Linked DNA regions of Homo sapiens. The protein of the gene in region 6 interacts with the protein of the main gene of each other region in a pairwise test. Each region holds a gene or a part of one and is shown on either strand. Other genes may lie near its edges.

The links.
Region 1: the proteins of UBASH3A (region 6) and KIAA0408 interact in binary tests that used the Homo sapiens proteins (3 or more experiments, as listed by UniProt).
Region 2: the proteins of UBASH3A (region 6) and SOS1 interact in binary tests that used the Homo sapiens proteins (3 or more experiments, as listed by UniProt).
Region 3: the proteins of UBASH3A (region 6) and PMEPA1 interact in binary tests that used the Homo sapiens proteins (3 or more experiments, as listed by UniProt).
Region 4: the proteins of UBASH3A (region 6) and N4BP3 interact in binary tests that used the Homo sapiens proteins (3 or more experiments, as listed by UniProt).
Region 5: the proteins of UBASH3A (region 6) and TIMM44 interact in binary tests that used the Homo sapiens proteins (3 or more experiments, as listed by UniProt).
Region 7: the proteins of UBASH3A (region 6) and KRT14 interact in binary tests that used the Homo sapiens proteins (3 or more experiments, as listed by UniProt).

What each region holds. Positions count from the first base shown.
Region 1 is NC_000006.12:127,452,890-127,456,389, forward strand, and holds part of KIAA0408 (uncharacterized protein KIAA0408), read right to left. Parts: intron 1,213-3,500; 5' UTR 1,093-1,212; coding exon 958-1,092; intron 1-957.
Region 2 is NC_000002.12:38,981,049-38,985,051, forward strand, and holds the end of SOS1 (son of sevenless homolog 1), read right to left. Parts: 3' UTR 501-4,003; downstream 1-500.
Region 3 is NC_000020.11:57,661,516-57,665,015, forward strand, and holds part of PMEPA1 (protein TMEPAI), read right to left. Parts: intron 1-3,500. UniProt on the Homo sapiens protein: Functions as a negative regulator of TGF-beta signaling and thereby probably plays a role in cell proliferation, differentiation, apoptosis, motility, extracellular matrix production and immunosuppression.
Region 4 is NC_000005.10:178,123,532-178,126,581, reverse strand, and holds the end of N4BP3 (NEDD4-binding protein 3), read right to left. Parts: 3' UTR 501-3,050; downstream 1-500.
Region 5 is NC_000019.10:7,937,167-7,940,666, forward strand, and holds part of TIMM44 (mitochondrial import inner membrane translocase subunit TIM44), read right to left. Parts: intron 1,032-3,500; coding exon 861-1,031; intron 1-860. UniProt on the Homo sapiens protein: Essential component of the PAM complex, a complex required for the translocation of transit peptide-containing proteins from the inner membrane into the mitochondrial matrix in an ATP-dependent manner.
Region 6 is NC_000021.9:42,413,902-42,417,401, reverse strand, and holds part of UBASH3A (ubiquitin-associated and SH3 domain-containing protein A), read right to left. Parts: exon of another isoform or gene 1,094-3,500; intron 961-1,093; coding exon 791-960; intron 1-790. UniProt on the Homo sapiens protein: Interferes with CBL-mediated down-regulation and degradation of receptor-type tyrosine kinases. Promotes accumulation of activated target receptors, such as T-cell receptors, EGFR and PDGFRB, on the cell surface.
Region 7 is NC_000017.11:41,584,096-41,588,206, reverse strand, and holds the start of KRT14 (keratin, type I cytoskeletal 14), read left to right. Parts: upstream 1-1,311; 5' UTR 1,312-1,372; coding exon 1,373-1,897; intron 1,898-3,149; coding exon 3,150-3,232; intron 3,233-3,793; coding exon 3,794-3,950; intron 3,951-4,111. UniProt on the Homo sapiens protein: The nonhelical tail domain is involved in promoting KRT5-KRT14 filaments to self-organize into large bundles and enhances the mechanical properties involved in resilience of keratin intermediate filaments in vitro.

The DNA.
Region 1 (3,500 bases), on a different chromosome or scaffold from region 6:
GCCTGCCTTCTCAGCTCTATTTTAGAGGAAGGGCTTAATAGTTACTTTTCTTCAGCTTTCTTCCTACTATGCCAATTCATATTTTATTCACAGTCAATTACATGGCTGTTAATAAGAAACATGACTGTACTATAAACACATAAAGCACTTACTTTGCCTGCAAAAAAGGCCAAGAAGTCTTAAAATAACAACTTTGGTAATGTGCATAAAACCATATAAAGTCAATACTAAGGATGTTACCAAAAGAAAGCAAGATAAGCATAAATTATTTCCAATTGGTGCAAAAGCTTGAATATACATCAATGCAAATGCTTGAAGGAAATATTTCAGGGTCAACGGACTGAGGGAGGGTTAACGGGAACAAAATGACTGTGTCAGAGTCGTGATATGTCATTTTTCATAACTCCTTTTCCAATAAATATGCCACTAAATGTGCACACCTTGATAGAATAAATCTCATGTCTACTGCCATTTTCTGTTTGATATATGATACTCCTTTTGATTATACTGCATTATCTAACATGTAATTTCCTTTAATAGACATTACTCATAAATCTTCTTAGGAAAGATCTATGTTCTAATGCCCAACTATAATTTTGCTAATCTATGTCCCACCAAGTATATCTTTCTTGCATTTTACTCCTGGACCTGGTATTTGAAAATTCATGCAAAATACATACCTCACTTTTGATAAAAAAGCTCTCTAGCCAGAAAATAATAAGTTGAAACATTATAGAGTGACATTTCAAATGCTTAATTTTCATGCAATGATATAAAATAATCCTTACAATACCATTGGATAAGATTATGCTATTTTTGTTCTAGTAAATGTCACTGAGAAATGTACCTCTTAGGTCGAATAAGGAAATCAAAAACAGTTTCCAATACAAAACAGCCCACAGAATTTTCATCCTGCACTTAAACATTACAGTATATCCAAAACAAATTAAAGTGTACCTCTTCTATTTTCTTCTGCATAATCTTCCATTGACTTTCCCATTCCTTTCTTTCATTGTCAAACTGGTCCAGTAATTCCATCTTTTCCTTATGCCAGTTAGTCTCTGTGTTCTCCCACTGCTTATGTAGGTCCATGGCAACAGTGTAAGTGTCAGCAAAGAAGTGTTTCTGCTCTTCTCTGCCTCCTCTTAACTGTTTCTTGGAAGCTTGAAGTTGTTTTATTTGAAGCAGTCTCACTTGCCTTTAAAATAAAGCCTAATATAAACATAACAAGAGAGAGTTCCAAATCCATGTGCTTTCTGGAAATATATTTTATCATTTTGTCGAGCCATTGACATAAACAAACTATAGGAAAATTGGACTCAAAAGAAAAGAGATGACAACAGTCTACTTAAGAAGAAGAAACTAACACAGTCAATAAAGTAATAAGTATTGTCCAAAGTTTTTTTCCCTTTCTGAGACCAGACAGCAAAATTATAGTGGACAAGATGATTAAATGCGCATGTGAGATGTAATCATCCCTTTAACCACTTACTCTAAAAATAGATTTTTTCATGAATAAGAGTGTAAGTATACAATTCAAATGTATGCTCACATCTACACACTGTGACAGATTCTGCTGCAATAAAATTATTCTTTCTGTTCTGATGCAACCTGATTATATATTCTTATGACTTAAATTCCTGAAACAGAGCTGGTTTGCAGTCTTAATTCTATATTCAGAGATCAAGCCTGTGCCAAATGTCATTACTGTGTTACTTATGAAGACCCCAAAGTTGGTAGTCAACTTAGGACTGATGTATCATCCAGAAACTAATCTAAATTATAAAAAATATATTCATTATGTCACTTCATCAAGGAAAATCTAGAAGCATCAAAACTATCCTGTGAAATATACGTTAAAATTTATCCATGCTCTCTTTTCCTTTGAATAGGCTATATACCATAAACTGCTTAGGATATTGAATACAGGGAACTGAAGAAAACATTTTGCTCAGTTTTCAGGGAATCCTCTATTACATTAAGTAGTGACTGAAATAATTAACTTTCTAGCCTTCAGGGACGTGTACTTAAGGTTTGAAGTCAGAATTTAAAATACCAGCTATGTAACTGGTATAAGTCTAAAATTTCTGGGATTTAGTTTTTTGCATTAAAATGGGGATAGTCATAGAACTGTTAAAAAGATTAAATGGCATACTGAATGCAAAGTAGTTTGAGAAATTTAAGAAAGTTTTCTATTTTTTGCTTTACAAAATTTCATTGTGACTTCAATTAAAAATAATTTTGTATTAAATAAGTCATGTGCCTTTTTAGGGGGTAGAAAAGCATGTTTAAAATGTTTGAATCTCTGTTTAAGATAATTATGCCTATAAGATGTCTAACTCTTCAGTCACTAAGCCATTATCAAAATGCTATAACTTACTGGTGGCAGCTAATGCTAATTACGGACAAAGATCCCAACAGTCAATAGCTTTGTGGGTGCTGGCACTGCCGAATTAAGGCCACATACCCAAGCAGCAAGTGCCAATTTTGTATTCACAGAAGATAACTGCATATTTCAAATCCTAAATATCAGCTAAATATCGAACACTAATTTTATTTTTGTCAGACTGTTGTGAACATACATATCTGACTAGTAAACAGTTTTGAATCTGTATTTTTTGAGTCACGATCAATGAATTAGAATAGAATAAGAAATGAAAAATGTTAGCTATATATGCAGGGTTCTACCTTCAAAACACCCTAATAATTTTGGGATCTATATTGTTACTTTACTCTCAAACTATTTACTAAAGATATTTTGATAATTTTTTCCTATGTCTTTGGCACTAGCACTATTATGATTAATTCAGTCACGAAAAATACATAATTTCATATCTGGCTATTAAAGGTGCTATCATATCTCATTTTATCCATTTGGCCATGCTCAATTTCTGACCTCATTTCTCCACCTCCTCTGTCACCCCTTTCTTTGCTATCTTTCCCACATATAAACCAGTAACCACAAGTACTTGCCATAATAAATGTCAGTGAAGAACAAATAAAATAAAGATGGTAAAGAACATACAGAGTTTTGGTTTTTGTTTGTTTTGGCTAATCTAATTTCCATTGATCTTGATCTTGAATACCTAGTAATCTTTTAGGTTCGTCTAACAATTCTTCATAGGAAATGCAGACAGTGCCTGTCTTGAAACTAGCAGACTGCTTTAAAACTATACGTAATTAACTGTGTGGTGAAACTACCTTGCTGACTAGAAAGTATTTGCCACTGGAACTTCTTAGGAAGAATGGTGTGGTTTGAGATAATAAGAGATAAATGCAGATTTAACCAAAGAAACTAAAAAAGGATGCAGACTAATTTCAAGCTACCTGGAAAAGAGGAGCTATGATAAATCCATGTTTTATCCCAACTGTCTTTAAACATTGGAAATGTTCAGAAATCACCATAAAGTCTTTTCTACAATTATGTAGCAAATGGCTCCAATTTTTCCTTCTATTCCTAACTCTTCTTGAATCGCTTCCATGCTACTGTTGAAAGATGC
Region 2 (4,003 bases), on a different chromosome or scaffold from region 6:
TCTAAGGATTCATCAATTTTTACATCCTATAGTTCACACTGAATGACGGTACATTTGCATCATTCTTTAGTTACAACCCTAAACTCACATTTTCATGCCAAGCCTAGAAAAAGAATTGCTAAAGGTCAGGCTACCTCATTCCAGCAGATCTCAGCAAAAGCTGCCTGTCAGGGAACGTGATATCTCAAAACTTCTTTTATGGAATACAAATGCCTTAGCACTCTGAAACTTCATCCAGGTGACACTCAAGGTCACTTTAAATTACTAGTTTTCATCCCAGAGGCCTCCCACTCACTACAATCAATCAGCAGATTTGACACAGAGGAAATGTGGAACTTCTTTTATCCTTTTATAACTTGATACAGGAAAAAAGTGCCTCCAAAGAAAGACCACAATAAAAATGCAAAATATTTCTATATGGCATATATGAGCTAAATGAGAATCACTAATGATTTCAAAAATACTGCCCTCTAAAATAAATACATGCAAAAATAATACACTTGTGGGCTATGTAAGGCATTTTTCTTTATTATTTTTCAGTTTATCTTAGTAATGCCAGAAAAATAACAGCCGTTATTTTCACTTTAAATGCAAACCAAATACTGCTGCACACAGAGTACAAAGATTACCTATGAACATGGTTAGGTACAAAGGCCATATTAGATGTATAGACCACACTTTGTTCTTACATCAAAGACCGACCGACAGAGCAATTTTTTGACAATTATTTTAGCAAATAACCGTGCTACTAAACAAAGGCAAATACACATATATACACAAACACGTCTCAACTAAAATTATACATGTCACTTTGACAAACAAATTCTCTGGTGGTTTCACCAGATATTTGCACCCCAAAGTTCCCTGCCCAAATCCCGACCCCAAATGCTGACTTGATCTGAAGAAAAAAATTAGAGATGTTCTTAATTAAAGGCACATTTGGCAGCTACTGAAAGTGGCATGCATCTGGCACAGGTGCGCTCTCCCTAAGCCACACCACATGTACCTTCCATCATCTGTTATGCATCTTGTTTCTTTGAGTGGTAGTCCAATGTGACCCACTGTTAGCTAATTTGCTTTATAATTCTGCAGCAATTGGCTACTTAATGCACTATTTTCATTAAAGGCAAAAGGGAAATTTGCTCACAGTCGACAGAAAATGCACTTTACGGTGTCAAAAATGGAAAATAAGGCATGGAATTTACTAAACAAGTTACAAGTGCTTTTGTTGTTTAGATTTATAATATAGACTTCATGCTTCTTAAGTAGAGCTCAAAATATTTCATTGGCTCATGTATAAGGGATTATGAAATAATCTTAAAAGTTAGTAATGAGATGTTTCAAAGAAGAAAAATATTGAATAAAGTCATCATGTTCCCTTATAAATAACTTTACTGCATAATTCTTTCAGCCAAACCAATATTAACCTTGTGATGTTTAGTTACTGGTAAAGATTAATGCAATACAACAGGACCTATACTTGCGTAGTCACACAATATATGTTAAAAGAATAAGTAAACCTATTCACAGCAGCAGAATACCAAGAAATAAATGGTTAAACTGTTTCTTTCTAAATCTGAAGGAACAAAAAGGTTTTCTTCAATATGTACAACACTAATAAATTGGGACACTCCTCCTATTTTGCTGAGTCACTTAAAAATCTGAATTTAAGCTGTCATATTAGAAGACAAACAATGAAATACAAGATTAAGCTAAACTTGAGAATTAAGATCATGACCATAAATACCAACTAATTTTTGGTTTACATAAGGTAATTTTTGATTTATGGAGGGAAAAAAACCTTTAAGAATTTAGAATCATAATATAGCCTCCAGCTGACATAGTAATTGTTCTCTGGGCTGTTGTTGACTGTAGTATTAGTGTGGCATGCTCTTTGTCAAATTCAGATCCATTAAAGCATCCTTGAGTTGTTAGAGAATAGTAACCTACTAAACATAATTTGATGCCCAACAACCTTTAATTAAGCGAACTCTCAATGTATGTTTCCTGATAATGTGTAGTCTTAAAATACATCAGCCTTGAAATATTTTCATTTCTAAAAGAAATGTTCCACATTTTGGAATGTGGTTAACAAAAAGTCATGCTGCATTTACCCCCTTGTAATGTCCAGGATTCAAAAGCAGAATTTTGTAATGATGCATTTATCTCCTCAGCCATTTCTGGTCCCTGATTAAATAGATTTTCATTACTACAAGGATAAATTTGTCAACTAGTTAATGTTTCATATTGAGAAGAAGGCAAGGATGCCATTTTCTCACCTCCACCTAAGGGCATCCAATTGGCATTTTTCTAATCAGTTACCACTGCAGAAAATATTTTTACCTAAATGTAACAGTTCAGAATAAAAATATCCTCCATCCACAATGCATGTAAAACTGTTGCACAGTGAAGTGGTCTCCTAGAACCATGGGGTAGAAGAATAGTTCCCTTTGGGAGAAATAGGATTAGAACTCCAAATCTGAATTTTTCCTCTTTATAGACTAGATAGGTTGAAAAGGGGTTATCACCTTATTGAAGGCTAACACATTAGCCGAAGACATACTGAAGGGGGTCCAATGTGACTTTTACCAGGTTCTCATTTGGAATGTGCCTGGGGCAATTAAAAAGAGAAGTAATCCATGAGACATAAAAAGAGAAATCTTAGGGACAATGAGGCTGGCCCAGTATAAAGTCCAGGGAGATTCTGGACTGTCTATCATGATTAGTTGTAGCGGCTCTAGTAAGTTGGCTCACATAAATACTGTTGAATGGATGGTCTTAGGGACACTTTGCATCCAAGAGGGGATTTGAAATTAATGTTTTAGGACGCTTTTCAAAGAGGAAATATTTTATAAAGAGAAGAATGGCTACCATCATAGGAATGGTACAGATATTGAGAAAGGATTCAATTCTAACAAATAAATAAGAAAATAGGATAGACTGCTTAATGATGGTGCAGTTAACATACCTTCTGGTCTTAAAGGACTACATACTGTACTATCGTGATGTACATTTTATGCTCTAATAAATATCATAGGAAATTATTAAAGTACTAGGTTCCCACCATGTTGCAGCACTTCTAAAAATGTCTCTAATGGTGTGGTTAACAGAATTGCTGAAATGTTGCTTCATTATTCAGAGGATACATGCAGATGCTGATGAACCAGATAAACTCTCTAAGGATGGAATACTGCACATTTCACAGACATTATAGTGGAGATTAATAAAATGTTTTCTCTTCAACAAGGTGCATGCATTTCAGTCACAGTATTTGTTAGACTCAGAAGAACAGTACATACGCTTTATGAATAATCCATATTATGATAGTAATGATGCAGGTAGATGTTCTATTATGAATAGTTTTGATAAAGCAGAAAACCTCAAGCAAGGTAGAATGTTCAATATAAACCTTAACAAACTGTATACTTGTTGCTTAGGAACTTAAAACTTACTTACAAAGTTCTGCTTAAAAGATACCCATCCTATTCTAACCAAGTATCTTCCTATATGCCAAGCTGTGACTTTAGATCATTCTTTAAGATTAATACATATATCCAGAACTAGAAACCAAGGCGTACCACAAAACGTGCTTTTATGTTTAGTGTTTTTGTGTGTTTTTCAACTAAAAGAAATAAGAATCAACCATTTTCTTCATATAATAATTTAATATATGCCAGCCAAACAAAGTATTTGTATCTTTATTCAATTAAATTAAAACAGACCTGCCAGGTATATTATATAACATTCACTATATACATATGATTTAGGCAATGCAAGATAATTCTAGATATGCTGATTACTCAACTATGTGTAAAACATGAGCGGTGTCAGTGATGCCCAGCAAGTGCTCCTTTTCACATTGGGTGCCTGCATTTCCATGGTATGGTTAGAGGGATAGCTACGAGCCATGACATGGACTACCAGTAAACTTCTGTGGGAGAAGGAGGGAAAATGACAATCTAGCATAGATGAACAGTCTCCTAAATGCAAATAGAATAGTTGA
Region 3 (3,500 bases), on a different chromosome or scaffold from region 6:
TTAGCCAGGCTCCCTGGGGGCCCCAGTTCAAGCCCAGTGCCACTGACTCAGTTCCTCCTCCTCCCAGGACCGAGGAACCAAAGCCGGGGGAGGGGGATCGGGGTGGGCAGGTGTCAGGTGGCAACTGGAGAAAAAACAGGCCGTGCAGAGCCGATGCCAGGCGCTCGGGCCATCAGACAGCCCAGGCAAGCACACTCCAAACCCGGGGGGCCCAGCCATCTCCTGCCACCAGCCTCGCTCTCCCCAAGGCAGGAAAGCAGCCCATCCTAGGTGGGAATGTCACTGTCTGTGAAGTGGCAGACGCCTCTCCACACAGAAGCACTCCCACACCTGTGTCCACTGCCACTCCTTCTTCCCCAACAGGTTTTCCAGAACTTCCCCGTCTCGGGCACTTTATGCATCTGTGCCACCCTCAGCGCGCCATTGTCTACACTGCTACTGAGCCAGTGTTTCTCAGCTGGGGCCGCGTCTGCACCCAGGGCTCAGCGTGCCACTGTCTACACTGCTACTGAGCCCGTGTTTCTCAGCTGGGGCCGCATCTGCACCCAGGGCTCAGCGCGCCATTGTCTACACTGCTAATGAGCCAGTGTTTCTCAGCTGGGGCCACGTCTGCACCCAGGGAACATGTGGCGATGTCTGGAGCCATTTTTGGTTGTCACAACTGGGGGGTACTCCTGGCATGGAGTGGGTGGAGGCCAGGGGCTGTGGTAACCGTCCTGCACCGACAGGACTGTCCCCCATGACAAAGAATGATCCAATCCAGTCGGTCATGCTGTGGGCTGAGCACACCTAAGAACGGGCGTTTTTATTATCATCCCCATTTCACGGGTGAGGAGACACGGGCTCAGAGGGAAAAGTGATTGCCTCGAGAAGTCCAAGACCCTAGAGCTGGCGCGTCCTCCCACTAGGCTTGGTGGGGCTTTCCCAAGCCCCGAGAAGGCTTCGGCCCTGCCTGCTGGGAACTCAGGCCCCAAGCCCTGGGCCGCCTGTGGGACACCCGCATGTTCCTGGCCAGGAGAGATCAGGCTTCAGACCCAGGTCGCTGTGGCCACACCTCCTGTCTCCCCAGACAGGCAGGTCCAGGGCCGGGGCAGCCTGGCCTGATTCTGTAGGGCCCAGGTCCGTCTGTTAGCACTCAGGATAAAGCCGCATTCAGGGTACACACAGGGCTGGCTTTGTGTAACACCCACGCCCCCCCACCCCCGGGGCCTGCAATTCCCTGCCCCCCAACCCTGTGCACTCTTCACCCCAGTTCCCCCTTCCCCAGCTGTCTCCAGGGGCCCAGCCCACATCAGCCCTGGAGGGAGGGAGGTGTGTGGCTGTTTTTGTCCCTGTCCCGGGCCCTGGCAGCCCGCAGGACCCAGACAGCAGTGAGACGGTAGCTGGGGCTGCAGGGCCGGTGGGATGCAGGGGCAATGGAGGAGGCCCCTGCAGACTGAATGGGTGTGGACAAACCCTCACGGCTCTCCTGGCCCCGCCAGGCTCGGCCCCAGGGGCAGGGGGATCTGACTTTTGGACGTCTGTATCCACAGAGTGAGAAAAACGCTCCCAGAAATGAGCACCGGGCTCAGTAGCGCATAAGAGCGTCACCCTGGTCCCTGGGCCACCAACTCCCATTGGGTCACTGGCCCAGGAAAATTCACATGGGAGAGGAGAGAGAAAAACTCTCTAGAAAAGAGAAACTACAACTGACTGCTGGCTAGACTTGGTGAGCCAAGGGCCTGGGTCCAGGCTTAGGGAGATGGAGATTTGCAAGGGTTGCCGAGACTACGGCTCAGGAGCACCCTGGAGAGGAGCAGGGTGGTGGCAGGGAAGCACAGTGGCTCTCTCAGAGGGCCCGGGTCCCAGCCTGGCTCTTGGGGGCCCTCTCTGAGTCCATCGCAGTCTCCCTGTGTCAGCGGGGGGACGGTGGGCAGCAGGGGGACAGTGGGCAGCAGGATGTGCGGGGGACATGTGCTCAGCATGTAGTGCTCCCTGGAGGTGGACCCAGACACGGGATGCTCAATTCCATCCTGGCTCCACCAGAACAAGGGTGGCCCAAACCCATCCACCCTCAAAGAGACATGACCTGCTCTGGAATCGCAGAGGGAGCATCTAATGGAAGACCCTGGAGGGCTCCCTGTAAGGTGGGCACTGAGGCTTTTGGTGCAGGGCACGGAGTGCGGGGCAGAGTGGAGCACAGGCAGAGGGTATAGGTGAGCAGAGGCCGGAACCCAGACCCTCCTGGATGCCCCTGGACATGCCCAGACCTGGAGGTGTTGAGGGGGGCAAGAGAGGTGCTCCAGCCAGCAGCCGGGTCACCCCCACCCATCAGGAAGGCAACACCCTGGGCCAAGGAGGCCCCGAAATCTCCATCCAGCTCCAGTCAAGCCCCACCGGCGCGGATGCTGTGCGGGAGGAAGGCTGGTCAGGCACAGCAGCATTGGGGCCCACAAACAGGTCCAACGAAGACCACCCTTGGGCATGGGGTGAGGAGGCACCTTCCACGCACTTTCACACCCATGGTGCTGCTTCCAGGAGACGCTCAGCTTTAGGGGACAGGAATGCATTCTCTGGGGAGTGGACCATGCAGTGCCTGCTGGCGAGGTCGGTCGCAAACCAGAGACCCAAGGGCACGCGCACCGACCGTCCCTGGCCCCAGCCGTGTTCCCACCTGGCATCACGGGAGCAGGGCTGTGGGCAGCCACCCTCTCCACAGGCCTGGTCCCGGGACTCACCTGGCCTGGGACAGCCACGCCCTGACACTGTCGGTCCCCACCCCACACCACCCCAGGGATGCCTGAGACTCAGCATGCGGGCCTCTACGACGCACTGATCAGGGCCCACTCAGGCCGAGTTCATCAAGCATGGGCTCCCTCCCCACACTAAGTCCCACACATCCCTCTGGGCAGGCACCGTGAATCCACCAGCAAAGACCCCTTGGGGGAGAGAAAGGTGCCTCCCCGCAAAGGCCTTGGAGTCAAGTTCAAAACATGATGTGTGTATGAAGCGGCACCAATATAAACACGGCTCTCCACCCGCGGCAGCTCGCAGAATCCTCTTCGTGCCTGCATTTGTTCCGAGGAGCGCAGGGAGGCTGCTGGGGCCCATTCCCAGTCGCAGCTTGAGAGCCGGACTCTCAGGATCAGATGCCTCGCGGGCAAGGGAAGGAACCCCAGCAGGACTGCCAACGCGAGGCGGAAGGAGAGAAGGCCCAGCGCGGCCGCATCCCTCCCTCTCTCCAGAGGACCCTGGAGCCGGCTGTGAAGCTGTGGTCCTTTAAGGCTGGAACCTCATTTAAGAGTTTTAAAAGGGCCAAGCAGGCCACACCCAAGGCATCTGCAGGGCAGGCGGCTTCAGGACTTCTGGCCAAGAGTTGGGCCCCAGGTCACTTAGTGACTACTGGCAGATATGGAGCCACACCAATCCTGCCTCAGTTTCCCTAATCTGACAGACTGCCCCTTTACCAAGGCATGGACAAAGACATCCCAGATCAAATGCCCAGTATGACACCTGCAGGG
Region 4 (3,050 bases), on a different chromosome or scaffold from region 6:
TTCAGCCTCCCACAGCTTCATACTTTGGGGTATCATTTTCTGAGCCCCACCACCAATTTCCTAGGATAGGATTTTTAAAATTTAACTCAATAAATGCAGGGGTGGGCCAAGCGCCGTGGCCCACGCCCATAATCCGAGCACTTTGGGAGGCTGAGGCGGGTGGATCACGAGGTTAGGAGATCGAGACCATCCTGGCTAACATGGTGAAATCCTGTCTGTACTAAAAATACAAAAAATTAGCCAGGCGTCGTGGCAGGCGCCTGTAGTCTCAGCTACTCAGGAGGCTGAGGCAGAAGAACTGCTTGAACTCGGGAGGCGGAGGTTGCAGTGAGCTGAGGTCACGCCACTGCACTCCTGGGCAACACAGTGAGACTCCATCTCAAAAAAATAAATAAAATAAAATAATAAAATAAATGCAGGGGTGGCACATAGTATGACTTTTTTCCCAAATTTTTATCCAGTTATCCCAGCACCGCTTGTTAAAGCATCCTTCCTTACCCTTATTTTGAAGTCCTTTATTGTGTAAGATTTTCTACAGAATAGAATCTATTTCTGGCTCTTCATTCTTTCCATGAGGTGTAGATTATTTTTACACCAATGTCGTATTTTTCTTGCTACTTTGTAATATGTTCTAATATTACATATTAGAGCAAAGGAATTAAATACCGCTCACAAAAAAGGAAAGAGAAAAAACCCCATACGGTTATTGTGAAAGCAGATCAGTGGTTGCCAGGGGCTGGGGTGGGGCGGGGGGTGGACTAGAGGGCCACAGGAGAATGCTGGGGGGGTGACAGAACTGTATCTTCATTGTTGGGTTCGTTACATAACTCTGCATTTGCCAAAACTCTAAGTAAGCCCAAAGCAAAATGAAACCATGAGACCCACCTCCTGGACGGATGAGTGAGCCAGCTGGGAACTCCCATGGCCCTCCAGCCTCTCCTCTCGTGACATAATCACTTTTGTTTTTGTTGCAAGAAGCATCATTCTTTTTCTTTTCTGAATCCAATATGGATGCCTAAGCCCCCACCTGCCAAGGGGGATGGGTTATCAATATCTGAACCGTCACTGCAGGGCCTGCGCCCTCTTTGCAGAAACCTCAACACTTACATTCCGTGAGTCTCAGAGAAATGTACCCAGCCCCACAGATAGGCTTCCTCTGCCTGCTCCATGCTCTGCTGACCCATGCCACCATGGAGGCCCCTCTGTTGTCCCTAGTTCTGTCTGAACACTTCTGGATTCTCTTCTGTTCTCTTTTCCGCCTGCCTGGCCCCAGTCACTATTTGGAGCGGCCTTCACTACCTCTGACATGTGTGGTCTCCCTCCCCCACCCACAGGTAAGCCCTATCAGGGCAGGGGACCGAGGGCCTTGGCCACCTTGGCTTCCTCACCTGAGAAGGCCCCAAATACATCACTGGAACGAATGGCAGCTGCCCCTGGAGTCCCTGTGCTTGGCACAGACCTGGTGCCCACGGATGGTGAACGAACATTCAGAGTAAGTCTTCCCCATCCACCCCACCCCAAGCTCAAACCCATTCTAGTATTGGGGGGTCTCTGGTTGCTCCTGACTCCACATCCCACCAGTGCCTTCTGGAGCTGTGGTGAAGACACCACCCTACCCCGGCAATGCCCACAGCTCAAAGGAGACAGGCAAACCAACAATTACAGCAGCACAGAAAGAGCTGACGGAGATTGGCATGGGGGCTGTGGGCGCAGGGAGGAGGGAGTGCCCAGGCAGGGGAGGCGGTGAGTTCAGGGCAGGTTTCTCAGAGCACTGAGGGGCTCTGCCTGCAGGATGAGGGCTCAGAGGGCTACAAGGGCTTGCCAAGGTAAGGAGGAGGCACCACTATCAGTGACTCGAGGCCACTAGTGTGTCAGAAGCCTGAAGGGATGGACCAAGAGGCCCAGGGAGCTGCTGGAAGGGATGACACTGAGTGAAGGACTGGAGGCCCCAGAGGCAGGGAGCCCAGCACCAGGAGGCTGCCACCTTCCGCAGAGCAGGCTGCCCGGACCAAGCCTGTTGGGGAGGGGCTGCAGGGAAGGCTAAGCCAGGGCAGCTGGGAAGCTGAGGCCCCGCCAGCTGGAGGGAGGGGCTGCCCTGAGGTGGTAGCCACTACGGTGACACCTGTGATCAGTGACACCTGTGGTCGGTTGGCCCCAGAGCCACCCAGCCGGCTGGGGGACCCAGGAACTGGTTTGTCCAGCCTGGATGAGCTGACGGGGATCCAGCTCCGAGACGCCCCAGGCTCAGGTTCAGCTCTCGTGCCCTCCCCCTACATCTGGGCCTGGCTTTGGTTTCTGGCACAGCTGCCAAGTTTTGGTGCCTCCCACCCACTCCCCACTGGCTGTACTGGCCAGCCCAGCTCCCTAATCGCTGGGTGGGGAACTGTTCTGCCGAGCTGGTATACCAAGGTGGACCCTGGCACCAGGTGTGTGGGCCCCTGGCTTGACAGGCCCCTGGCCATGGAGGCTGTGATCAAGGCATCTGGCCAGCACCTGGCTCTGAGGGGCCCTCTGGAGGAGCCATTGTCCCAGAGATTTCCGTTTGGGGTTTGGGGTTTGGAGGAGTTTGTGAAATGGGAATGGGTACCAAGGGGGTGTGTAGACGACTGGCCTGCCTGACCTGGCCACTCCCCCTTTCCCTCCTCAGGCAGACAGGAGCTCAGGTGTGGGCCTGTATGGGTCTCAGATAGGCCTAGGGGATCTGTCTGGGACACAGGCTCCACCCAAGCCTGGCCAGTGCCAAGACAGACTGGGGCTGACAGGAAGGAATGGGGTAGAGGGTGGGGCCAAGAAGGGGCCTGCACTGTCTCCAACCCAGACACTGGCTTTTGGAGGCCAGGCTCCCAAACACACCCCCTCAGACACACCCACCACCCACAAGCACATCTTTACACACACCTGCCACTTACATGGCCATAAACACACCATCCCCACAGCAGACAGTGCACACGCCTCATTCTCTGCCCTGAAAAAGGGGGCCCCCCCAGCTCATGCCTCACACCCGTCCCCTGACATCCATGTGCACTAACTCCACTTCACAACCAGGACCC
Region 5 (3,500 bases), on a different chromosome or scaffold from region 6:
TATCCGGGAGGCTGAGGCAGGAGAATCAGGAGCTGGAGGTTGCAGTGAGCCAAGGTCACGCCACTGCACTCCAGCCTGGATGACAGAGCAAGACTCCATCTCATAAAATAAAATAAAATAAAATAAAATACCAGCACCATCACCCAGTTTCCACCAGGCTCCACTCAGAGGGCTACAGCTGGGAGCTCTCAGGAGCGCTGCATCCCATAGCTGGTGTGCATGCGTTGCCTGGGGGCCTGTGAAGATGCGGGCGCTGGCCTGGCAGTTTGGGAGGGTGTGAGCCTCTGCACTGCTCATCCACTCCCAGGAGGAGCCACTGCTGCTGGTCTGGGGACCACGCTTCAAGCTGCACAGAACGCTGCATGGTCTCATGGCAGAACCCAGAGGCCTGGAGACCCGCACCTGTCCCCTGGCTCCCTCTCATTAGTGCATCAGAGCAGTGACCTCACTTCCTCACGAGCCACCCTGCCCCCAACCGTCCAGCCCTGAGCTCCTCTGGCTGTCCCTGGCCTGGAGAAACCCTGGCCCTGGAAACAAACATGTCAACCAAGAAAGGTAAGAAGCAAAGGGGCCCAACGCGGTGGCTCACGCCTGTAATCCCAGCACTTTGGAAGGCTGAGGCGGGCGGATCACTTGAGGTCAGGAGTTCGAGACCAGCCTGGCCAACATGGTGAAACCTCTTCACTACTAAAAATACAAAAATTAGCTGGGCGTGGTGGTGCGCGCCTGTAAGCCCAGCTACTCAGGAGGCTGAGGCAGGGGAATCACTTGAACCTGGGAGGTGGAGGTTGCAGTGAGCCGAGATCGCACCACTACTCTCCAGCCTGGGTGAGGGAAAAAAAAGCAGCAAAGAAACTCACGTATTTCCTTCTGGCCTCCTGGAGCACGTCTGATTCTTCTAGCCTTCTGGCCTCGTCACGGAATTTTTTTATACTTTCTTTCATTTCTTTGTTTTTGGCTAATTCTTGTTTGACATTATCTAGCAAGCCGGACAGAAAGCCTTTTCTGTTTCCAGAAGAATATGATTTGGACTAGAAAGAATGTACAAGAAAAAAAATTTAAAGAACATAGTAGAACATAGAATGAAATGCCCCACAGAGGGACTCAGGGATTTTTTTAAATGTTCTCTTTTCGGTTGATATACATTTAATGATGATTAGCTATCTCTTTTATAATAATCATAAAAAACAAAGAAACAGCAGGTGATAAAAGTGTGGTATATCCAGACAACAGAATATTATTCAGTGCTGAAAAAAAAATGAGCTCTCAGCCACTTTAGGAGGCTGAGGAGGGAGGATTGCTTGAGGTCATGAGTTTTAAGACCAACCTGGGCAACACAGCACCCTATTTAAAAAACAGGCTGGGCGCGGTGGTTCACGCCTGTAATCCCAGTACTTTGGGAGGCTGAGGCGGGCAGATCACCTGAGGTCAGGAGTTCGAGACCAGCCTGGCCAAAATGGTGAAACCTCATCTCTACTAAAAATGCAAAAGTTAGCTGCGCATGGTGGTGTGTGCCTTTAGTCCCAGCTCCTCAGAAGGCTGAGGCACAAGAATTGCTTGAACCCAGGAGGAAGAGGCTGCAGTGAGCCAAGATTATGCCACAGCACTCCAGTCTGGGTGACAGAGCGAGACTCCATCTCAAATAAAATAAAATAAAATAATTTAAAAAACAAGCAAGAAATATGCTCTCAAGCTGTGAAAAGACACAGAGGAACCTTAAATGTATATTGCACTAAGTGAAAGAAGCCAATCTGAAAAGGCTACATACTGTCTGATTCCAACTATAGACCGTTCTGGAAAAGGCAAAACTAAGGGGACAGTAAAAGATCAGTGGTTGCCAGGGGTTTGGTAGGAAGAGGGTGAGATGAGTAGGGGGGAACACAGAAAAATGTTAGGGCAGTGAAACTACTCTTATGATACTGTAATCACAGAGAATGTACACCACCAAGAGGGAACCGGAAGGTAAACCATGCATTTATTAATAATAATGTATCAACATCCTGTCAATTGTGACAGATGCTCCACACTAATGCAGGACGTGAAGAATAGAAAACTGTGTGCCAGATGGGAGAGGAGGGGCATGGCAACTCTTTGGACATTCTGTTGGATTTTTCTGTAAACCTAAAACTGCTCAAAAGATAAAGCCTTGTGAAAGCAAAACAAGGCCGGGCGCAGTGGCTCCTGCCTGTAATCTCAGCACTTTGGGAGGCCAAGGTGGGTGGATCACTTGAGGTCAGGAGTTCCAGACCAGCCTGACCAACATAGTGAAACCCCCGTCTCTACTAAAAATACAAAAATTAGCTGGGCGTGGTGGTGGGTGCCTGTAATGCCAGCTACTCAGGAGGCTGAGGCAGGAGAATCACTTGAACCCAGGAGCCGGAGGTTGCAGTGAGCCAAGATTGTGCCACTGCACTCCAGCCTGGGTGATGGAATGAGACTCCATCTCAAAAAAAAAAAAAAAAAAGCAGGCTGGACACAGTGGCTCATATCTGTAATCCTAGCACTTTGGGAGACCGAGGTGGGCGGATCACTTGAGGCCAGGAGTCCGAGACAAGCCTGGCCAACATGGTGAAACCTTGTCTCTACTAAAAATACAAAAATTAGCCAGGTGTGGCGGCGCCTGCCTGTAGTCCCAGCTACTGAGGCAGAGGCAGGAGAACTGCTTGAACTCGGGAGGTGGAGGTTGCAGTGAGCGGTATCTCGCCCCTGCACTCCAGCCTGGGCGACAGAGTGAGACTCTGTTTCAAAAAAACAACAGAGAAACAGTTTAATGAATGATCATACAATAATCCAATCAGGCGGAAGGGGCCGCCTGTGGTCAACTTTTCCACAGCTGTGTTGGGTATACCAGCTCCAGGTGGGATCCCCCTCCCTGGCTCCTGTCAAGCTACAAGAGAAAGCTGCATCCAGCCTGGTGCTCAGGCCCCGTGGAGTCACACACCTGTGGTCCCAGCTACTCAGAAGGCTGAGGTGGGAGGATCGCTTAAGCCCAGGAGTTCAAGGCTGCAGTGAGCCGTGATAGTGCCACTGCACCCCAGCCTGGGCCACAGAGTGAGACCCTATCTTAAAAAAAAAAAAAAGCCCAGTGCTGCTCCCCAGGACAGGTGGCCAGGCCTCCTGTCAGCAGGCTGCAGTCCCATTCAGATGCCACCCTGGCCAGCCTTTCTCCAGGGGAAACCCAGGTTCTAAGTAAAATCATCCAGGACCACACAACCTTATCGCAGCCCTACCAGAGACTCTTGGGCTACAAACCATGGGAGTGAGTGTGTGGCGGGGGACTAGACAAGAAAGGGAAAGAGTCACAGGTCCTGTCCCACACCCACGATGGCCCCAGGACAGGACTGGAGAGGTAGGTAGCTGCCTCCAAGGAGGCAGCTGAGCTGAGGCTCTGGGCGCAGAGAGAGAGGGAGACAGAATGTACGCGCTGCCCGAATGTACAGGTCTGGGGAAGGGAGTCAGGTTTTGGGCTTCTGTCCTCACGATGCTGAGACACCAACAGA
Region 6 (3,500 bases):
CCCAGGCTGGAGTGCAACGGTACGATCTCTGCTCACTGCAACCTCCACCTCCCAGGTTCAAGTGATTCTTCTGCCTCAGCCTCCCGAGTAGCTGGGATTACAGGTTCGTGCCATCACGCCCGGCTAATTTTCTGTATTTTTAGTAGAGACAGCGTTTTGCCCTGTTGCCCAGGCTGGTCTCGAACACCTGACCTGAAGTGATCCACCTGCCTCAGCCTCCCAAAGTGCTGGGATTATAGGTGTGAGCCACCACACCCAGCTTCCTTTTCTAATATTGGAAATGCTTCTATTTTGTTGTCTGTGCATCTCTAACTCACATATAAAAGAATGCTGGTTGTAAATTGCACAAGAAAGAGAATGGCTTTAGAGAAGCAATAGAAATTTTCCTTGCTACTAACATATCTCCCTTGGAGGGCTCCAGGGGGTACATGCTGTCAGGTGAGTGGCCGTTCACTCATCTGCTTCTTTTTTTGAGACGTCTCGCTCTGTAGCCCAGGCTGGAGTGCAGTGATGCTACCTCCACTCGCTGCAAGCTCCGCCTCCCGGGTTCACTCCATTCTCCTGCCTCAGCCTCCTGAGTAGCTGGGACTACAGGTGCCCGCCGCCGTGCCTGGCTAATTTTTTGTATTTTTAGTAGAGACGAGGTTTCACCATGTTAGCCAGGATGGTCTCCATCTCCTGACCTCATGATCCGCCGCCTCGGCCTCCCAAAGTGCTGGGATTACAGGCGTGAGCCACCGAGCCCAGCCCATTCATCTGCTTCTTATGAGCCCCTGCTCAGCTCTCTCACCTGGTAGTGCACAAAGCGCATGTCTCGGGAGTAGAGTGCTGCGGTCCACTGGCAGCTGTGGCCCAGGGGGATGGCTCTGGCCAGCTGCTCCAGCGTCCTCTGGTGGTGGGGGTAGAACTTGTGGGCCAAGGTCAGATGCAGCTGTTTGGTGCAAGGCTTCACGGAGCAGTCTGTGAAATCAGGGAAACACAGAGGGTGCCAGGACACCGTTACCTAAATGTCTCCTTCCTCCGACCTCCATGCTTCCTCCACAAGGCAAGGGCTCTCAGAACTCAGAGCTCATTTGGCCCGCTCAGAACTCACATCATAAAGGAGATGGCTGGATCCCTGTAGATTTTTCCAGGAAGTAGGAAAGAGGACGATATGGAGATGTGGGTTCAGGGTCTCGGGGGCCTATCGGTTTGCAGGCTAGCTGCCCGAATGCACGATTCAGATGCACAGAGTAAACGGCTCCTCCATTCCCCGGGGTGTGCACGTTACCCAGTGGCCTGGACTTGCAGGCCCGAGCTCCAGTTCAACGGCTTTTTGTTTAATCGTAGAGTTTCAAGAAGAAAACTCTTTAGGCAACAAAACTATAAAACACACAGTGTCTTTAAGGTTCACCTTGTTTTGGTGAAGCAGGAAGTCCTGGGAGTGGTTGAGCCTCAGGTCTTTTTGGGTGTCCTCTGCCCCTGTGGCCCTAGCCCTCCCTGGTCCTGCCAGGGGCTCTCAGGTCAGTCTGAGCAGAGCAGCTGGCATCACCAAAGCAGCCAGGATCTGATTTCAGTTGAGCCACAAAGTATTTTATGTCCTAGGGAGGCGGTCTGTGTCTTGACGGGAACAACACAAACTTTGGTGTCAGATAGACCTAGTTTTAGGCTGCACTTTGCCCCCTTTTGCAGGGTGACCTTGACTGAGCCTCTGGGCCTGCCCAATTTCTGCTTCAGCAGCATCTGCTGGAGGACGGCAGCGCCTGCTCGCCAAGGCTGCAGTGGGAAATCAGCCTCCTAACCTAAAGTTTCCTGCTAGAGACGCCGTGTCGGTGCACAGACGTACCCTGCCCCCACTCCACGGCAGGGCACTTACAAACAGGATCTGCTCACCCCCTAAAAAAGGTCAAGGTTGATGCAAGCCTTTCCCTGGAGCCCCGAAGTTGGGGCTCACTGCTGTCTCCCACGTGAGAGGTGAGCCTTTAGAGGCAAATGGGAAGCTCCCACGGTCTCTAGGAAAGCTGGGGCACTGAGGCTGCACAGCCCAGAGCAGCATGAGTGTGTAGGTGGTGGGGAGCAGCATGAGTGTGTAGGTGGTGGGGAAATTCCTTTCCTGACTTTTGTTTTTAGCAGTCGGGGAGGACCGCCTTGCCATGCGAGTGAGTGTGGCCTGGGAAAGACCCACTGCAGGTTGCTGACGTCAGAGTGAGTCACACCGACTTCTGAACGGGTCCTTGCGTTTCCTTCTCTCTGCGGACCTGTGCCTATGGGCACGTTTCACTGGGGAGGACCAACGCGGGCAAGGGGGCCTCATGCATTTGCCCCAAGAGGGACCTCGGCCACTTCAGAGCAGTGACTGGTCACTCATCACTGAGAGAGTCCCCTCCACCCCCTCGGTGTCAGGCTGAGAGCATGGGCCATGGAAGGGCAGGACACAGCCTGCTTAGGGTCGGGGCGTAGATGTGAGGTCAACGCTGGCTCCCACAGGAAGTGGGGCTGCCCAGCATGAACCCAGGCAGCATGGAGCAGGACAGAGGTGGGTTCAGGTCCCTGCTCCGCCAGCCTGGTTAGGGGACTAGATTGGTTTCAAACAACAGAAATGTATTGCCTCCCATTTCTGGAGACTAGAGGTTCAAAATCAAGGTGTTGGCAGGGCTGTGCTCTCCCCGAAAGCTCCTGGGAAGGGTCCTTCCTGGCTTCTTCCAGTTTCCGGTGGCCCCAGGCGTCCCTTGGCTTGTGGCTACATCACTCCAGTCTCTGCCTCAGTCGGCACATGGCTTCTCTGTGTCTCTGTGCGGCCTCTACCCTTACGGGAACCCACCCTAATGCAGTGTGACCTCCTCCCAACCAATCGCATCTGCACAGGCCCTATTCCCAAGTGAGGTCACATTCCCAAGTTCCTGGTGGACAAACATTTTTAGGGGACACCGCTCTACACACCACAGGACCTTGGGCAGGCCCTTCACCCTTTGCAGCCTCAGTCTTCCTGTTTTTAAGATGCTGCCAATGAGGTTCACTGGGGGAGGGCCTGGGTGTGAAAGAGCCATCATTTGATAAAGGATACTAATCCACAAAGACCGGGGGCGACTTTCTAATTATTCAGCAGATTCGATCTCCAGACTCACAAGCTGCCATCCAAGTGGAAGCCCAGGATTCAGGGATGGATTTACAGGCCAGGATCTGTGCTTCATACATGTCTGAGCACAGACAGACACGCTCCCAGAGAGAGAAAGTGGGGAGCCCTCCCACCAAGGCACTGCGGCCTCGTCAGATTTTAGAGTCGGCAAATCTCAGCAATACTGAGTGCCTTCTGTGTCCCGGGAACTATGGCAGGATGGGCCACAGACTCAGGCAACATTGTTCTTGAAGAGTGAGAGCCCTCATTGTTTTGTAGAGAAAGAAAAAGAGACAGAGAGAGTGGACATGACTTGATTAAGGTCATGCCACTCATCAGGGACACAGAAAAAAATCACATCTTCTGACGTCAAGTCCACAATCCTTTCCACTAAACCCCAATGGTA
Region 7 (4,111 bases), on a different chromosome or scaffold from region 6:
GGTGGGGGCCGGAAGGGTTTGCTTTGGGAGGTTGTCTGGGAGATTGCTGAAGTTTTGATATACACACCTCCAAAGCAGGACCAAGTGGACTCCTAGAAATGTCCCCTGACCCTTGGGGCTTCAGGAGTCAGGGACCCTCGTGTCCACCTCAGCCTTGCCCTTGGCACAGCCCAGCTCCACTCCAGCCTCTACTCCTCCCCAGAACATCTCCTGGGCCAGTTCCACAAGGGGCTCAAACGAGGGCGCCTGAGCTGCCCACACTAGGGATGTTCTGGGGGTCTGAGAAGATATCTGGGGCTGGAAGAATAAAAGGCCCCCCTAGGCCTGTTCCTGGATGCAGCTCCAGCCACTTTGGGGCTAAGCCTGGGCTATAACAATGCCAACGAGGCTTCTTGCCATACTCGGTTTACAAAACCCTTTCACATACATTGTCGCATTGGATTCTCAGAGCTGACTGCACTAAGCAGAATAGATGGTATGACTCCCACTTTGCAGATGAGAACACTGAGGCTCAGAGAAGTGCCAAGCCCTGGGTCACAGAGGCGTAAATGGCAGAGCCAGGACCCACCTGACTCCAGGCTGTTTCCTGGCCTCCATGAGGCCACCTGCCCTATGGTGTGGTGGATGTGAGATCCTCACCATAGGGAGGAGATTAGGGTCTGTGCTCAGGGCTGGGGAGAGCTGCCTGGATTTCTCTTTGATGGGGATGTTGGGGTGGGAACCACGATACACCTGACTAGCTGGGTGTATTTCAGGGATGGGACAGACTTCTCAGCACAGCATGGGAGGTCAGGCCTGGGAGGGCCCCCCAGACCTCCTTGTCTCTAATAGAGGGTCATGGTGAGGGAGGCCTGTCTGTGCCCAAGGTGACCTTGCCATGCCGGTGCTTTCCAGCCGGGTATCCATCCCCTGCAGCAGCAGGCTTCCTCTACGTGGATGTTAAAGGCCCATTCAGTTCATGGAGAGCTAGCAGGTAACTAGGTTTAAGGTGCAGAGGCCCTGCTCTCTGTCACCCTGGCTAAGCCCAGTGCGCGGGTTCCTGAGGGCTGGGACTCCCAGGGTCCGATGGGAAAGTGTAGCCTGCAGGCCCACACCTCCCCCTGTGAATCACGCCTGGCGGGACAAGAAAGCCCAAAACACTCCAAACAATGAGTTTCCAGTAAAATATGACAGACATGATGAGGCGGATGAGAGGAGGGACCTGGCTGGGAGTTGGCGCTAGCCTGTGGGTGATGAAAGCCAAGGGGAATGGAAAGTGCCAGACCCGCCCCCTACCCACGAGTATAAAGCACTCGCATCCCTTTCCAATTTACCCGAGCACCTTCTCTTCACTCAGCCAACTGCTCGCTCGCTCACCTCCCTCCTCTGCACCATGACCACCTGCAGCCGCCAGTTCACCTCCTCCAGCTCCATGAAGGGCTCCTGCGGCATCGGGGGCGGCATCGGGGGCGGCTCCAGCCGCATCTCCTCCGTCCTGGCCGGAGGGTCCTGCCGCGCCCCCAGCACCTACGGGGGCGGCCTGTCTGTCTCATCCTCCCGCTTCTCCTCTGGGGGAGCCTGCGGGCTGGGGGGCGGCTATGGCGGTGGCTTCAGCAGCAGCAGCAGCAGCTTTGGTAGTGGCTTTGGGGGAGGATATGGTGGTGGCCTTGGTGCTGGCTTGGGTGGTGGCTTTGGTGGTGGCTTTGCTGGTGGTGATGGGCTTCTGGTGGGCAGTGAGAAGGTGACCATGCAGAACCTCAATGACCGCCTGGCCTCCTACCTGGACAAGGTGCGTGCTCTGGAGGAGGCCAACGCCGACCTGGAAGTGAAGATCCGTGACTGGTACCAGAGGCAGCGGCCTGCTGAGATCAAAGACTACAGTCCCTACTTCAAGACCATTGAGGACCTGAGGAACAAGGTGGGTGAATGGGCAGCAGAAGGCACCATTCCAGCTAGCTCCTTCTGGGAACAATTCATGCCCCAGGCCCCTGAGACCTTAAGATTTCTCTATAGGACAGAGTCCACCCCAGATCCCTTCTTTCGAGGTCTTGGATGCCCTAAGACTGATCAGTGAGAAGATGCTTTCCCTTCCCCAGCCTCCTCATCCCCTTCTGATCTCAAATCCTCAGACCATGTGAGATCAGTGATTCCTATCCTTACATTTTTTAGAGGAAGCAGTTGAAGCTTCGAGAGGTGCTGTGACCAGCTGCAGGTCACATAGCAAATTAATGGCAGAGCCAAGGCTGGGGCCCTTGTGCCCTACCTTCCAGCACAGGAGGCAGCTACTTGTTCTCCAGCACAGGGGAGGAGTGAGGCTCTAACGGGACCAGGCAAGACATCCAAACCACTCATTAGCTCACTAGTCTGGGCTGTGGCTGCCGCCGCCCATAAGCCTTGGTACAGGCTGGTCCCTCCCCACAGCCAGGCGGGCATGGAGAGCCTGCAGAGACAATTAGTGTGGTCCCTTGATGTGCCCTGCACAGAGAGAGCCTGGCAGGCTTGTGCCCTGACTCTAGCCCCCTCCTCCCTGCTCCCACATTACTTGGGAGCCCTCCCTGCTGGAGTCTGTTGGGCTCTAATGACTTGCATGGATTAGGGAAATTCAATGATGAGGTGGGGAAATCCAACCAGACTCAGGGGCCAATATATCTTCTTATTCTTCCCCTGAGTCCTCTTTTCTAATCCCCTGTGTTAGTTGGGTTTTATCTCTTGAGAAAGTTCCACTTGAAGTCCCATGGCCTGTGAGCTTGAAAAGGAATGTGCATATCTGCAGAGGACTGGCAGGGCTGGCTGATGCAGACAGAAGAGAGGTCAGCTCAGGAAGGAGGGCTAGGGAGCCTCAGATTATTCTCCTCACCTGGAGGTGGGGAACTTGAAGCCCCAAGACCCATTAGGTTTTGCAGCAAGACACTGGCAGAATTGGGACCAGAACTCCTGGGCTTTCGATTCTAAGCCCGGGGCTGCATCTACCCCCTCTGTTGACCATGAGTTAGCAAAGTCTTAGGACAGGCCTGGGGCATCTGTTTTCCTTTGGGCTGCTATGGTCAAGTTTTGTGGGGGAAAAGGGGGATTCAGGCAAGAACATGAAGCAAGAGCTTAATGTAGGCTACAGTGAAGTCCAGCTTGTGAAGTCCATTTGACAAATTACCTGTGCCTTTTCCATCCTGCAGATTCTCACAGCCACAGTGGACAATGCCAATGTCCTTCTGCAGATTGACAATGCCCGTCTGGCCGCGGATGACTTCCGCACCAAGTGAGTTTGAAATGGTGGGCCAGAACATCCAGTGTCCCCAGAGTAGGGCATTTTTGGAGCAGTGTTTCCCAAATAGAACTAGCCAGTACCAGGATAGGTGCATGAAAACTCCCTGGGGTGCTTATAAAAGAATAAGACTCTTGGGCCCCACCCTTGGAGTTTTGATTCAGCTATTTATAGCAGGTTACCTGGGTGATTCTGGTCCACAGCCAGGTTTCAGAACCGCTGCTTTAGGGAGAGGCACTTTCCACTTCCCCAGCTGCCCTTGAAGTATAGGAAGGAATCATAGTTGGAGGACTTCTGCATTATTTGTTGGCTGAAGCTAGAAGTGCAACCCCCTCCTGATTTCTGCAGCAAGATGAACTGCCTTATCCCCAGCCCGCAGGAATGTTCATATCTGAGCAATCAATGGGCACTGTGTTCAACCACGCCATTTTCAAGATTGGCTCCTTAAACCACCCACAAGGCACCAGCTCTGGGAGAAGCTGCAGGGAGAAGAGAACAAAGCCCTCGCTGTGATCAGGATGGGTGTCTCATACCTTTTCTCTGGGGTCATTCCAGGTATGAGACAGAGTTGAACCTGCGCATGAGTGTGGAAGCCGACATCAATGGCCTGCGCAGGGTGCTGGACGAACTGACCCTGGCCAGAGCTGACCTGGAGATGCAGATTGAGAGCCTGAAGGAGGAGCTGGCCTACCTGAAGAAGAACCACGAGGAGGTGAGAACTATATGGAAAAGTCAGCTTAAAAGAAATGCAGGGAGGCTGGGTACAGTGGTGCGTGCCCATAGTCCCAGCTACTTGGGAGGCTGAGACAGGAGGATCACTTGAACACAGGAGTTTGAGTCCAGCCTGGGCAACAAGGCTAGACCCTGTCCAAA